Linked DNA regions of Homo sapiens: region 2 is linked to region 1. A link means that fine-mapping ties the variant in region 1 to the expression of a gene that starts in the linked region. Tissue or cell type: monocytes. Region 1 holds a variant in brackets; the other region holds the start of a gene. All regions are shown on one strand. Distances are between the middles of the regions.

What was found. PIP is the estimated chance that this variant, and not a neighbour inherited with it, causes the effect.
Region 2: it holds the start of C11orf40, and the variant in region 1 is fine-mapped to the expression of C11orf40 in monocytes (Fairfax 2014, PIP 0.95).

The regions. Positions count from the first base shown.
Region 1 is chr11:4,416,631-4,424,930 of GRCh38, reverse strand. It overlaps the pseudogene OR51R1P. Among named protein-coding and RNA genes, the nearest start is that of TRIM21, 27 kb to the right of the region's middle. The variant C/AC (reference allele first, on the strand shown) is at 4,239.
Region 2 is chr11:4,575,541-4,582,090 of GRCh38, reverse strand. It overlaps C11orf40 (chromosome 11 putative open reading frame 40), which reads left to right and starts at 4,271. Exons shown (of 4, transcript NR_172945.1): 1 at 4,271-4,411. OR52I2 (olfactory receptor family 52 subfamily I member 2) reads right to left here and starts at 348. Exons shown (of 2, transcript NM_001405760.1): 1 at 227-348.

The DNA of each region.
Region 1 (8,300 bases):
GCAAGCATTATACTGGAGAGTGTATTATCTTTCCAAGAGTGAGAGAAAAAGGGAGTGAGGCAGGGAAGGAATGCATTATTGAGCTGCCACCAACTTAGCCACAAGCTGACTGCTCAGTGCCCCAGATGTCTTCCAAAGGGCTCTCTGGAGCTGCTACACCTCAACACAGACCATATCGGGGGGAAAAGAAACGCAATTTATCCAATGATTCCTTATCTTCCATTAGTTAAAGTCCACACCTATGGTGAATTAATTCCCTTGCACTTCCAAGTTACAAATGTGTCAGTGACCAAGCAAAGCCATAATATTTCATTCCTCAGAAGCAACAGGGAAGCTGTTAAAGCTAAAGGGTGTTACAAACTGAAAGTTTCACACAAAATTCATGTGTGAAAGCCCTTACTCCCAATGTATGTGACTGTATTTGAAGACAGGGCCTTTAGCAAAGTAATTAGGGTCAGATGAGGTCATGATAGTAGGGACTTCATGATGGGATTACTGTCCTTATAAAAAGAGACACCAGAAAGCTTGCTGGTGCTTTCTCCCCACCACATGAGGACATGGTGAGAAGGTGACCATCTGCAAGCCAGGAAAAGAACCCATTCTGGCAAATCACAGACTCAGATTTCCAGCCTCCAGAACTGTGAGAACACAAATTTCAACTGTTTAAGTCACAAAGTCTATGGTATTTTGTTACAGCAGCCTGAGCTGACTAATACAGACAGACATGCAACAATACCAGCAAAGGCATGAGGTACAGTGTATTCACTCATTCTCACAATGTTATAAAGATACCACCAGTGACTGGGTAATTTATAAAAGAAAGTTTAATTGACTCACAGTTCTGCGTGGCTGAGGAGGCCTCAGGAAACTTACAATCATGGTGGAAGGCAAAGGGGAAGCAGGTACCTTCTTCACAAGAAAGCAGGAGAGAGAGCACTATCATGAGAATAGCATGGGGGAAACTGCCTCCATGATCTAATCACCTTCCACCAGGTCCTTCCCTCAACACATGGGGATTACAATTTGAGATGAGATTTGGGTGGGGACACAGACAAACTACATCATACAGCAATGTTAGGATGTGTCAGGAACCATATGAGAGACTGAGAACAGTCACTGCAACTGGACCTGTAGCCTGGGGCAAATACAGAAGCAGTAACAAGAGCAGTTTGGCTCTGCAATCGCAACAGTAGCACAAGCAACACCTAGGGGCCTCTGGCTGCCCAGGTAGCCATCAAGGCAAGTATATGGATCCAAGTTAACACAAACTGAGTTTGGTACCATGAGGAAACAGCTAAAGAGTTTGAGAATGAAAAAAAGTGAGGTAACAGGGGAAAGCAGAAGTACAAAATCTTGGAGAAGTAGTGGTGTTGGGAGTGATCAACAGTGTCAAATGCTACAGCTATAGCAATGGATTGGGTATTGATGTGGTCTGACTCTGTGTCCCCACCCAAATTTCACCTTGAATTGTAATCCGAATTATAATCACCATGTGTTGGGGGAGGGATCTTGCAGGAGGTGATTAGATCATGGGGGTGGTTCCTCCATGCTGTTTTCATTACAGTAAGTAAGTTCTCACGAGATCTGATGGTTTTATAAGGAGCTTTTTCCCCCTTCACTTGGCAGTTTTCTCTCTTGCCATCATGGGAAGGACGTATTTGTTTCCCCTTCCACCATGATTGTAAGTTTCCTGAGGCCTCCCCAGACATGTGGAACTGTCAGACAATCAAACTTCTTTATAAATCACCCAGTCTCAGGTATTTCTTCATAGCAGCATGAGAACAGACTAATACACGTATTAACAAATGGAACTGGCAATATATAGTTCATTGGAACATTGACAAAAGCCATTTCAGTGGAGCTATAGGGCCAAACACCTGATTGGTATGAACACAAGAGACGGTCAAGGAAAGAACTGGTGCAAGTATAGAAAATTATTTCTTTCCAAGTTGTGAGTAAAATTCTTTTGAGTTTTTGTCGTAGGTGAGTTAAAAAGCATGAATAAGACCTACTATTTGATAGCACAACAGGGTGACTATAGTCAATAACTGTACATTTTAGAATAACTAAAAGAGTGTAATTGGATTTTTTGCAACTCAATGGATAAATGCCTGAGGGGACGGATACCCCATTCTTCATGATGTGCTTATTTCACATTGCATACCTATATCAAAACATTTTATTTCTCATAAATAATAAACACCTGTGTACCCACAAAAATAAAAAATAAAATTTAAAAATTCGACTGACTTCTGTCCTATCTCCCTCAAAAGTATTCTCTTATACTGGTCCATGGAAGGAAGTGGTAGGACATAACTTTACTCAAAGGGGCATTTTTCCTTATATTCTTCTAATCCACAAAGCATTCCAATATAAATAAATTTGCATTCATCATAACTTCACATCACTCTGAGTGAATTCACAGCAATTGCTCATTGAATCAGTCACTGTAGGTTTCCTTTTTTTTTCTCTGTAAAGGGAAAAATAGCTCTGTTTTACAGAGGACTATTAGGAAATCATTTTTTCCATGGCCAATCCATGAACAATGTAGGCCATTCTCGGGAAGACTTGGCTTTGAAGAACTTGGGACATGCATCCTGATTTTTATAAGCCTTCTCCTCTTCCTCCTCTTGTCTAGGACCATCCTCCCCTCCAATCCATTGTTAGTAGCCAGGCCTAGCATAAGTGTATGCAAAAAACTTTTCCTTGATCCAAAAATATATAAGGTGAGTCAGTCACTCATTCCCAGTCACCAAAGACCCCACTCAGCTCTAGAGTGTTGCAGACTCAGCATATACTGTCCAGTTAACCCAGGACAAGCGTTGGTAGCTGGAATTATATACATGGAACTTCTTAGACCAGATTTGGATCTTCCCTTTGGAACCTAAAGTCCTTGAGAGGTTCAGTTATGAATTAATAAACCCAGGGCTTCTATAGAGCAGTGTAACCGTGAACAAAATATTTGCATTTGCAACCAACCACACAATTGGCTTTTTCCTCCCAAAATCAAAGTTACCTTATACAAAGTATATAATTACATATAATAATTACATTAATATGTGCTCCCATCTATTGAGCTCAACAAAAAATTATACAATCAATTGCCTTTACCATTTTTGAGGAATTCAGTCTTTCATTTATTCATTCATTTAACACATAAATGGCTTACCATTCTCAGGGCCATGTTAAGCACTAGAGTTAGACAACTCAGGAAAAACAAACATCGTCATCGTGTTTGCAGTGAACAGGCAAGATGGGCACTAATCAAATAACCACACAAACATACATAAAATGGGTTCTCTGTCGGTTTTAGTGCTTTATATATATTTGTATTTAAATCCTCACAACCTCTCTATGAGGTAAGTATCCCCACATTATAACGATGAGAAAATGGAGACTCAGAGAGAGAAAGTGACTAACTTAAGATCACACAGTTGGTATGGGCTGGAGCTGAGATTTTTTTAACTGAGGTTTTCTGCATGGGTGGGTGGCAGTCTGATTAGCATAAGAATTTAGAGCAGGAGCTTTAGATTTATATACACTGACGTTTTAAAAAAAAAATTCCGAAATCTAAAATCCACTGTATATCATACCCTAATAATCTTTAACTGGGTAAACTAGTAGCAAAGCTTTTTAGAGACCATCTCAGGACTCCCTTTGTGTCACTCTCAGATACTACAGTACTGTAGCTATTTGGCCTGTGAGGCAAAAGAAGGCATTATGAGACATGCCGAGATGCCTGCACACTGAAAGTAAAGTTGTAGAGGCATAGACCCCCATATCCCTTCCAGCTCTTGAGGTCAATGCAGTCATGAAATGGCCAGCAAGGAAAATGGTCATGCATGGGGATAGAGATTAAGGGTGGGTGGGAGCAGTGTCCAAGCTCAGAGCTGTTGTGGATAAAAGACAAATATGACAACGCCCAAGATCCCTACAATGCTAGATCGGATATCTAATATCCAAGCTTTATTCTGGTAATCCTCTGAATGGGAATTGTCCAGCCTGAGCTCAGGGCTCTGTATTCTTTTAACTGTGAAGGATGCCTGTGGTCTTGAATACCATCATATCAGCCTAAGGTTTCTGATAGAGGTTGGAGGGAACCTCAGTGAGATGGACATGCTGGCTCCCTGATCAGAAACTTTGTTATTGGGGTGGTAAGTGAAGCAGACAGAAGGGCCTGAATAACACTCTTGCTTATTCAGCTTAAGATCTGTGGCCCTGATAAAAAAAAAAAAAAA[C/AC]CTTGCTGTGTAAATGTACAAGATATCTTTTCAAGTGACCTCCTTTTCCAAAGTGGCTGGTCAAACTGGATATAATGAAACTTTTTGTTGGCTACTACTAGATACCATGATAACTTTAAATTCATGATTTGCTATCCTTGTTACTTGAGCTCTATGGGCAGGATCTGTGACTTCAGATATATCTATCTGCATTGGCAGTGGCCTCCTAGTTTCTGATAGGCACAGGACCCTGAGTTCCTTGGAACCCATACTACAACGGCCAATGAAATACAATCCAGCAGGGGAAACAACCATTCCAACTAGAGCTGCTTGCACAGGATTCACAGCTCCCACCCTGCCTTCTTGCCTCCAAATTCCTCATTCTCTCTTGTCTGAATTCATTAAAATTACACACAAAAATGACCACAATCATTAAATTCCCATTTGTCTGGATGGCCATAGAAATAGACACTGTACCTTCTAACAGCTCTATCATCACTTCTTTTAAATTCGAGTGGTTTTCCACTAGGAATATCCCTATTTCAATTCTTCAAGAAACTTACAAATATTTTAGAACTGAGCAGGCCAAGGGATATGATAGTGCTGAAGTGAGACATCCTTCAGTTTCTGGGTAAACTTCCTTCTAGAAGTTTGGAAGCAGCTTTGGAAAAAGCACCACAATAAACACAGCTCTCCTCTCTGAGCTGCATCCTTAGAGAAAGTCTTCGACCATGTGTTATAGAGAATTACACCTTGTCCCCAGTCTCTCTGACATCCATCTTTATCTCATTCCATTCTAGTTTATCAACTGCGTGTTATCCCCACAGGCCTCAGACATTCAGATGGCTCAGTCCCCTACCTTCCTGAGGATCCACTGTCAAGAATTTTTTGCTCCTGCATCTACCCTACCCATTTATTCTACAATATGTATTGAGCACCTACTGTATGATAGACATTGAACTTGGAGCTGGGAATATATCAGTGCACAAAATAGCCCTGCATCCCTGGACTCATGGAGCTGACATCCTAGCAGATCATCAACTGTGAAAGTGGACTACTAGTCCACCCTTATCATTGGTACCTGAGAAACTAGCACTATCCAGAAATTATAGTGAGCAACTTCCCTAGGCTTGGCAATGCCAAACTTTCTGTAATGCACGATCAGAAATGCATAAAGAATCAAGAGGAAACTACCACTCCTTAATCTGTAAATAACTGCAAATAAATTTGGCATGTACACTGTTGCCATACATGTTTCCCTACCACCCACCACCCTTTTTCTGATTCTTGTTATATGAGCTGGTTAAAATTAAATTTGGGAAAAGAAGGCCAGTATTAAGGTGAATATAGTTTACTATAGCTCTTCCTTAGGCTTATAAATCAAATGAGAAAGAAAAATCCAGGGGAGGGGAGGGAAGGAGAGAGGTGCCTGTACAGGTAGATACACACACACATTCTCTCGGTTTGGTTAAGCCCTCTGGATAAGAAGATATTACAGCATATATGAGTTTGAGATAGTTCAGCTCTAATCAGAGCAATGAGAAGATTATCAAGGTGATACTTGAATAAGGCTTACAACACTTTTAGTCTCCAAAAACTGTAACACAGCTGAATCACTCAAAAACCTCAAAAATTAACTCTCCGCAACCACTCCTCCCCTACCCCAAATCTCAGGGTCATGTGTCAGGGTCCTTCTGCTATTCTAGAAAGCATCAATCCTCTTCTGCTGGAAGTGCTTTAGGAGGCTCTGACGGATCTGCCTAGACTTGATGCAATACACAATGGGGTTCATGAAGGGTGGGACCAAGAAGTGTAGGTTGGCCATGAGCACTGCCAGAGCAGGGTAGTCATGCTTCTTTACTCGGTGCAAGACAGACAGCCCGTTTGGGCAAATAAAAGATGAGAACAATGCAGAGGTGTGAGACACACGTGTTGAGTGCCTTGAGCCGCTCCCCAGGTGATGCAATGCCCAGCACAGTTCATAGGATCAGGGCATATGAAAGCATGATGAGGAAGGAGTCAAGGCACAGTGAGAAGAGGATGGAAACCAGGCCAACCAGGCTATTGATCTGGGTGTCTGAGCAGGCCAACCCCACAAGGTCACAGTGCAGGCAGTAGCAGTGACAGAGAGCGCTGATCTTGGGAAAGAGCAGCTGCTGCAGGAGGATAGGTCCCGGGAGGTTGAGCAGAACAGCCCTCACCAGAATGGCAGTTCCCACCTCGGCTGTGACTGAGCAGGTAATGATTATGGCATAATGCAGAGGGTCCCGGATGGCAATAAAGCGATCGAAGGCCATGGCCAGCAGTACACCGGACTCCACATAGGTGAAGGTATGGATGAAGAACATCTGTGCTGCACAGAGATCAAAGGGCAGCTCACGAGCTCCCAGCCAGAAGAGACGCACCATAGTGGGGAAGGTAGAGGCACAGAGGCCCAGATCAGAGGCTGCCAACATGGACAGGAAGATATACATGGGTTCATGTAAGGCTGGATCTGTGTGGATCAGGAAGAGGATGATATTATTACCCAGGATGGAAACCACACAGAAGAGGTTGATGGGGATGGAAACCCAATGATGAGAGGCTTCCAGGCCTGGAAAACCAGTGAGGAGGAAGGTAGACTGACCAGAAGTGCTGGTGTTGCAGGAGAACATAGAGATTCCAGGCAGTAGTTGTCCACCCTAGGAGTAAGAAGCATTGTTCATTTGATCATTACTTATAAAGTCCCTAGTAAGTGTGGGCTTGAGAAAGAAGAGCTACCTCATAACCCTTTCTTAGGCTATGAAACAAACTCCATTCATTTTAGGAGCTCTATTTCCTTCTGTTTCCTGAGCTTTTGGGCTTGAATAAAATGATATAGCACTTTATTCTATTTTTATTCAAAAAGAGAAAGTTTCTGAGTTGATCTCTGCTTACTGCTTATGGCTATTTCATTAGCCACTATTTTCCCTTTGGCCTAAACAATCTTTTTTTTTCATTTGTTAAACCTAAAAGTCTCCCACTCCAGAGTGTCTTCTCAGACTAAAAACTGAAGAAAGGAGAATAATTTTATGTAGAAATTTAAAATTATATTAGAAACAAGTTTAAAATCCACTTCTACTTATTCTTAGAGGTGAGTTTTCCAGTCTGACAGATCTGTTAACAAATACACCATAAAAGCCAAACTCAAACAAATGAGGTATTTTCAAAACCATCCTCTTAGAAGGCTGGTTGCATATTCCTCTAGTGCGGTCATAGAACCAATATTTTCTGTATTTCTTTTCTAGAAATGCCTTTGGGGCCCAAAACAGGTTCTTTAAATGTGCTTAATGATGAAATTTATTTCCTATGAAGATGAACTGGCTTAAAGGAAGTAGTCAATAGTTCTTGATATTAAGAACTGGTAAACAAGATAGTAGTTTACCAGACACATTCAATTTTGTTAATCTGCTTCTTTACCAACTCTACTTTCACTTTATAAGCTGCTTAAAGCTTGCATGTTTTATTCTGGCCCTACCTTCAAAACAGTCCTGTGGCCATAAACTCAATTAGAAGGAACTTTCCTCTTAAATATCTCTTCTTCAGCCCTCCTACTATGAAACTTGTTATGATAGGGCCAAGTACTCTGAAGTACTCCCACATTGGGGGCAGAAGGTGGAGGCTGACATATCTTGAGGCGCATCCCCTGAAGGGTCAGGCAGAGCATCATAAACTTCCAGAACCCCAGGGTTAATCATGTTATTCCATGGAGGTCAAAGTGCAGTGTGTGAGCTCATCTGTTCTAATAAACTCACATAGCACTTTCAGGCTACACTTTCTTTCCAACTTCTCTCCTTAAAACAGGACTACATCTCCATTTATCTCCTAAGCATCTCACATGGTGACTCTGCAAGATATTAAATCTATATTGCAAACCAAACTCTAATTCCCCCACATCTCCCCAAAGCTCACCATTCAGCACTTGTTGGCTAGTGCCTCCCTTCCTTTCCTGTTATCTGTGAAATACCAAAAAACTAAGACAACTTTGTATATCCTTTTACTTGTAACATATTCTCCAAATCGACTATCTTTAAACTATTCCTTCCTTTTAGATCCCAGTGAAAC
Region 2 (6,550 bases), 160 kb before region 1:
TTGAAGCAAAGTAACCATATTTCCGTTCCCTCTCCACCTCCCTCATCCAAACATCATTTCCATAAGGTCTTGATAGCAGATATACCACCAGACCTAGACAGCCCTATATGGGAGGCATGAGGCCTTATAACTTTCATTCTGGGGTGACCCAGCCTTGATGTCAGGTCATCAGCCCAACATTCGATCTCTATCAGCCCAACACCTGATTCCCAGGTCAGTTACCTACATCCTTGGAATCTTCTCTATTCAACTTTCCCTGATGGGTTGATGCCTGGTAGTCTACATTTCTTTTACTCAGAAGAAGAGGGATTTGTACAGGACTCTTCAAGAGGAGCAGGAAAAAATGACACAAAATCAATGAACAATGGATAGTCATGGGGAGAAGTATTTTCTTTTCCAAAGAATTCCCATTGGGAGCTCCCTTTTCCCTCTGGATACTCTATCATCCTGCCTTGTCCCTGGACACCCACCTTACCTTGGCCTCTGCCCAGCAGCCAAACACTGCAACTCCTCCAGAGACTGCTTTTTGTGTGTGTGCTCTGGCCCCTGGGGCTTTCCAGATTGCAGGAGGAGGCAGATGCTTAGTGGCTGGAGAGTCCTTGTTTCTTCAAGTCCTCAGAGGATACCTAAAAGTTAGACCAAGAGTATAGAGTACAAACTGAAGGAAAAAAGAAGATCCAATATTGGTAGGATTTGTGAAAGGCCACTATGTGCCAGGCATCCTAATAAATGCTTTTCAAAAATTAGTCAGTTTTCAGAATCTCCTGAAGTAACTGTCATCATTGCATTGACATCTTATAGATGAAGCCGAGGTTCATAAAGGTCACAAAGTTAGTAAGCAAGTGAGTTTAAGATCTAAATTCTGACAACCATAAGTCACTTTATTTTATCGTAGAACTATTCACACTAACAGTGTACTTAATATTTCAAAGTCCAGTTCACTCTTCCTCGTTCTGCCTGGGGACTCAAGGTAGGCTTTGCTAGTTAAATGTTTCCCATGACACTACTATCATGTCCTATTGAATGGAGAAGGGAAATAGGATGTTGGGGAGAGCAAGGAAGATGAGCTTTTCAAATTGGAGATAAGAAATGTGCCTGAGCACAAAGGTATGATAAGGGAAATGTTCTCCAAATAGATAATAAACCAGAGGTGGTAGAGTCAGGGGCCTTCAAAAGGAATGAAAATACAAGAGGCTAGAGGGGTGTATGGGGCCATGTTTTAAAGGTCATGACTTCTGCCTGGGCATCATCTTTGGGAAGAAATAAAGTTGAGAGAAAGAAGTCAACAGGCAGAAGATATAAAGTTTATTGTATTTTTAATGGCAAAGAATATATAAATATTTGGAAATATAAAAAATCGGGAGACAATGCTGCATATTCCCAGTTCCCCCAATCCTCAATGGAGACATAGGTATTTATGAAGATAATGGTGAGAGGCCATTTGTTGTCTTATTTTGAGGGGTGATGAGCAAGGAGTGGGAAGAGGCTTTGTGCCTTCTTCAGCCTAAACTAGCACATTCTTAAAGACCAGGTGGACTTCAGTTTAACTTCACATCTGATAGAAGACCCATTCTTCAAGCCTGCAAAATGACTAGTCCTACCAACACCTTAGTATTTTGAACTCCAAAACCTGTGCATCCTGTTTCCTGTAGGGTCATTCAGAGAGCAGGCCATAACATAAACATCAACTAGCATACTGAACATTGATAAGTGAACAGTCAAATGCAGAAGACAATTAAGATATGATTTAAGTAGCCCCAGCATGAGATGAGTCAGCTAAACTGGGATACTCTCTGCTAAGATTCAACCTGTTCCTACGGAAGCATTCAGAGCAGTAGTGGATCCTCACAAACAGATGGTGGCCTTAAACTCACTTTTTCATTCCCAGTCCCATGGCAGAAGACTTCCAAATAGAAATATTCCAAAAAGGACAAAGACCTAAGGTAACAGAATAATGATACAAGAGAAGGTATTCTACGTGGAAGCAAGAGCTTTCAACATCTTTGATTGTCCCTCCTTTGTCATTATTTGCCCATAGTCCTTGCCATTCAGCCTTTACAACCTGCATCATATAGAAGAATGCCTAGGATGACGTAAAACCAATCATTGAACAAAGCTGCCATAGCCTGTAAGAGAACAGAAAAAGCAGAGAAAAATAGGTAAGAGTTGTATATCTCAAAAATTGAGCAGAAATGTTTGATTTTGTGTCCAGCTAAAATTGCCTTCTTGTGTTCAAGATAATACGGCTAAAGAAACCCAAGAAATATTGACAAGGTCTTCAAACTTCAGAAAACAGTTCAATTCCTTCATCTCTCCCTTTTCAAATCTCCACACTGTACTCCAACACAAAAGAGGCATTTAGAAATACATAAAGATCTATCCTCAGGAACACACATGTCATCTCAGTCTATTGACTTGGCTATTTACATTAGTTGATGCAGAATCTTGAGGTCCTGAAAGTCCCCCGCCCCAAATATTACTAAGATTCCCCAGGAGGTACCTGTAGTAGTTATCACAAATGAAACCCCGTGTTCCATTTCTGGCATTCGTGCCCCAGTGTAAGCCCCTCTTCCTGAGTGGTGCTGGACCTAATGGTTCACTTCTACTGAATAGAATTCTGCAAAAGCGGTGAGATTTCACTGTCCAAATTAGTTATAAACACACAGTGCTTTCCATCTTACCCTGTCTTACTGTCTTTCTCACCCTTTAAAAGGTAACACAGTATTGATGATTAATGTCGATGGCTGAACTTGGCAAAGAGTGTGCAAAAAAGAAAAAAGACTAATCTTCTTATAAGAACTGACCCAAAAATACTAAATAAAATATTAGCAAATATTGGAGTGGCTTAGAATAGGGACTTCTCAAATGTTAATATGTATACTTTTTACATCAGTGTTGTAGGCATCAGGGGTATGTTAAGCTCCAGACTGAAGCCAAGAAAGAGAATTTAGATGCTGAATTTCTAGCTGATAAAGTGACATATAGGTCTATATTCGGTATCTCTAATGACTCCAACCTATTTGGATCCATTTTGTAGTCTTTTTTGTAATGGAAATTTGCACTTAAAATGGACTAGGACACACATTAGGCAGCTGAAGAAAGTATAGCATAAAAGGAAGAGATGATATAGTCGACAAGTGGCTAGATTTTAGGGTATAGTGGAAATCTTTGCCTGCAGACGTTATAACCTCAGAAGTTACGTTGAGGGGAACTAGGGATTAAGTCTGAAATTCATTAGGCCAAAGCTTTGTTCCTATTTGCCACCTCAGCATAAAGGCAAATGTCCGGCTTGTGTGTGTATGTGTGTTTGTGTGTGCATACACGCATGCGTGCAAGTATTGATACACAAGTCCCATGTCAATCACACAGTCCTTTTTGCTTAAGCTAATTTTCACTAGGAAGAACCCTGCCATATTTTCCAAGGGAATAAATTCATTTTGGGCCATCAAGAGCCAGCCATAATACCACCTAATGAAAAAATCTACAAGATTCTAGTTATTTCTTCACAAAAGTATCTCTTTTTTTATTACAGAGAATGCAACAGAATTGTTCAAACAGCAGAATATCCTTAGAGATGGATCAGCTTAATGAGTCTCTTGAGATTGAGGTTCAGGTCAAGACACATCAATTACTTAAGGTCTTTGGCCTCCTGCCAGGAGAATTTATCACTTCCAGCTCTCTACGTGTGTCCTTCTCTACAATTTCCATTGCTAAAAAGTTAACCAATAAATACAAGCACATTTTAAGTGAGCTTTAAATGTATTTTCCAAATTTGTCTGATATTTTCGTTCTAATAGTTTTGTTTCTGTTATTTTATGCCTGAATCTTTTAAAAACCAAAATTGAGAAGGTGAATATATTTTTTGTCTGTTTATATTGCTTCTTACAGACTTTTATTTATTTTTGGTCCTCATTTTTAAATTATGTTTAATTTTATTCTACCTGTTTCATAATGTCTTAACAAACAGGAACTATGATAAGAAGCATGGGAGCAACAATGGGAGAGTCCATTCTATCATCAGGAAAAGTCTGACCATTTATTCCCTTCACCCATTGTAACGTATATGGATGTGTTTTGGTCAAGGAATAAGCCAAGGCAGATATCCAGGCCTGCATGATTCAGCAAGTTTGTTGCACAGGTGCACACTTCTACTTGTTATATAGATTGTTTGTGTAAGTTCATACTTGGCTCTGAGCCACTATTGTCTGTAAAAGGTATAATTGCCTTGCTAACACTATACAGGGACTTTTGGGGCTTGGCTCAACTCAACATGGCTCTAGTGCAGGCGCTGGTGCCCAGAGAAAGAGAGCCAAAGCTGTCCATTTTGCAGATGGACAGAGGGGACCCACAACACAGCTCACACTGGTGCCCAGAGAGAGAAAAAGTTAAGCTGCTGACCCTGAAGCCAAGGGTGAGCCGGCTATGCAGCTGCAGGCATGGGGGCGGCAGGAGCCACAGAGCCAGAGCACACAGTTGAGATAAAGGTGGACAGTGTGAGAAAGTTGTTAATAAGAACTGCTGCTGAATGAAGTCATCTTTCACCTGCATATGGACCCCCGAGTGTTCTTTCTGTTCATCCACCCACTCCCCTCGGACTTCAGCATGGGCTGGACCTGAACCCTAGGATCTGACACCCATCTCAAGTCCTCTCAGAAGACTAATCAGATATAAACTTTCCCCAGCTGTAAACTGTGTAGCTCCACACAGATCCCCCCCTTGAAGCACTCATTACCTCATAAGCTGGGAGCTATCAGCTGCTGATAGTTCACACCTACATTTCTTTCAGGAATTACCTTCAGCCAAAGGGAACTCTATTACCCTAAATTAGCCACCCTCCGTTTGCAATGATTGTATTTAATGACTAGTTGATGGTGAGTTTAAAGGCCTGACTCCCTTGCCTAACTCAGGACAAGTGTGTAGGACCATCTCTACTCCAGAGTTTCTCGTAAATCAGCTGGGAAGTCTGATGAAACTCCGTTGTAATTCACCTTCTCCCTCTGCAAAATTCTGCTTCCTTTGCACCTGTTGAGACATTGTTTGTGAGCTTACTTTCTGATAAACTTTCAGCATGGAAAGGTCTCAAAGTCAGTTTCTAAGGAACCCAACTTAAGACAGTTGATAGCAGGAATGGCCCCAGAAAGTAGACTCTCAAGTGTGATTATAAGCTGGCAGGCTGGAAATGAGGACCCAGAAAACTGTTTTCTAAGTTGTCCTGAACACAATTAGGACAAGAGAATCCTTACCATGCTAAACCATATGCTTCCCTTTTCTTCTTCTTTTGCTAGTTTAAAAGATACTTTTTGATAGGAAAAATTCACTGAAAGTTAACTAATATTGGTTCTGTGACTTTATTCTGAGTTGGTTCTAGATCTGATCATAGAATCTAGGGAGTGATGTATATTTCACAATGTAGAGTTCATTTTCTTTACTGTCAAGTTTAAGATTCTAGCCCATGTCTGGCAATGGCAACTTTTTTTTCTTGTGAATCCTGATGTTAAATTTTGGAAGGTGAATTATGATACTGTAGTTACAGGTGAACACACTCAGGAGTCTCCCAATTTAAAAAATCAGCACCAGCTCTCAGCTGCCACTTTGCTTCTGGTTTAGTGGGTTCAGGAGCCTCCGTGGCTCCAGCCAATCCAGGCTTCAAGAATTCTGACCAATGGCGTTCCCTCACCTTCTATTTAAGTTAAACTTCAACTCCTCTTAGGCTTTATAAGCCCCTGACTGAAATGAGGTGGGTGGGGTCTGGGTAGTTTGGGTGGAAACTGGGAGACTTCTAAGTTAGTTTCTCCTTTCTCTCTGTGTCTTTCTTTCAGCTTTTTCTGTTTCTGCTTACTTTAAGAGATAAGAAATTCTTTGCTGATTTGCTGTGAGAAAAAACAAAACGAATAAGGCACCTAGGTTTAGTTCTGTTTCCTTCCATCTTTCTCATAATCTCACGACTTGCCCGGGAAGTGAAGACTCGAACAACAAGCTCAACATTCCTCGCTTTCTCTAATGAAATAGTGAAAATCAGCACTGAACTGAGATGCTTTGGGCTAGTGGAATACTAGAAAATACTTCTCAGTTCCGGTAAACCTCATCTTTTCTCTCACCACTTCCTTTCTGTGGTTATTGTGGGGCCATTGGAATAACCCCAGACTAGGCATAGTTCCTAAAGAAGGGCCTCACTAAGAGGCTGGGATGGGAGCATTAACCCTGCTTTCCCTAGGAAGGCTGTTTCTAATTCGTGGGCTTAACGTCCCTTATAGCAGAAGGCTTAGAAGAAGGACCTTTTTGGCTGGACGCGGTGGCTCATGCCTGTAATCCCAGCACTATGGGAGGCCAAGGCAGGCAGATCACCTGAGGTCGGGAGCTCGAGTGCCAGCCTGATCCAACATGGAGAAAACCCATCTCGGCTAAAAATACAAAATTAGTCGAGCACGGTGGCGCATGCCTTGTAATCCCAGCTACTTGGGAAGCTGAGCCAGGAAAATCGCTCGAACCTTGGGGGAAGAGGCTGCGGTCAGCAGAGATTGTGCCGTTGCACTCCAGCCTGGGCAACAAG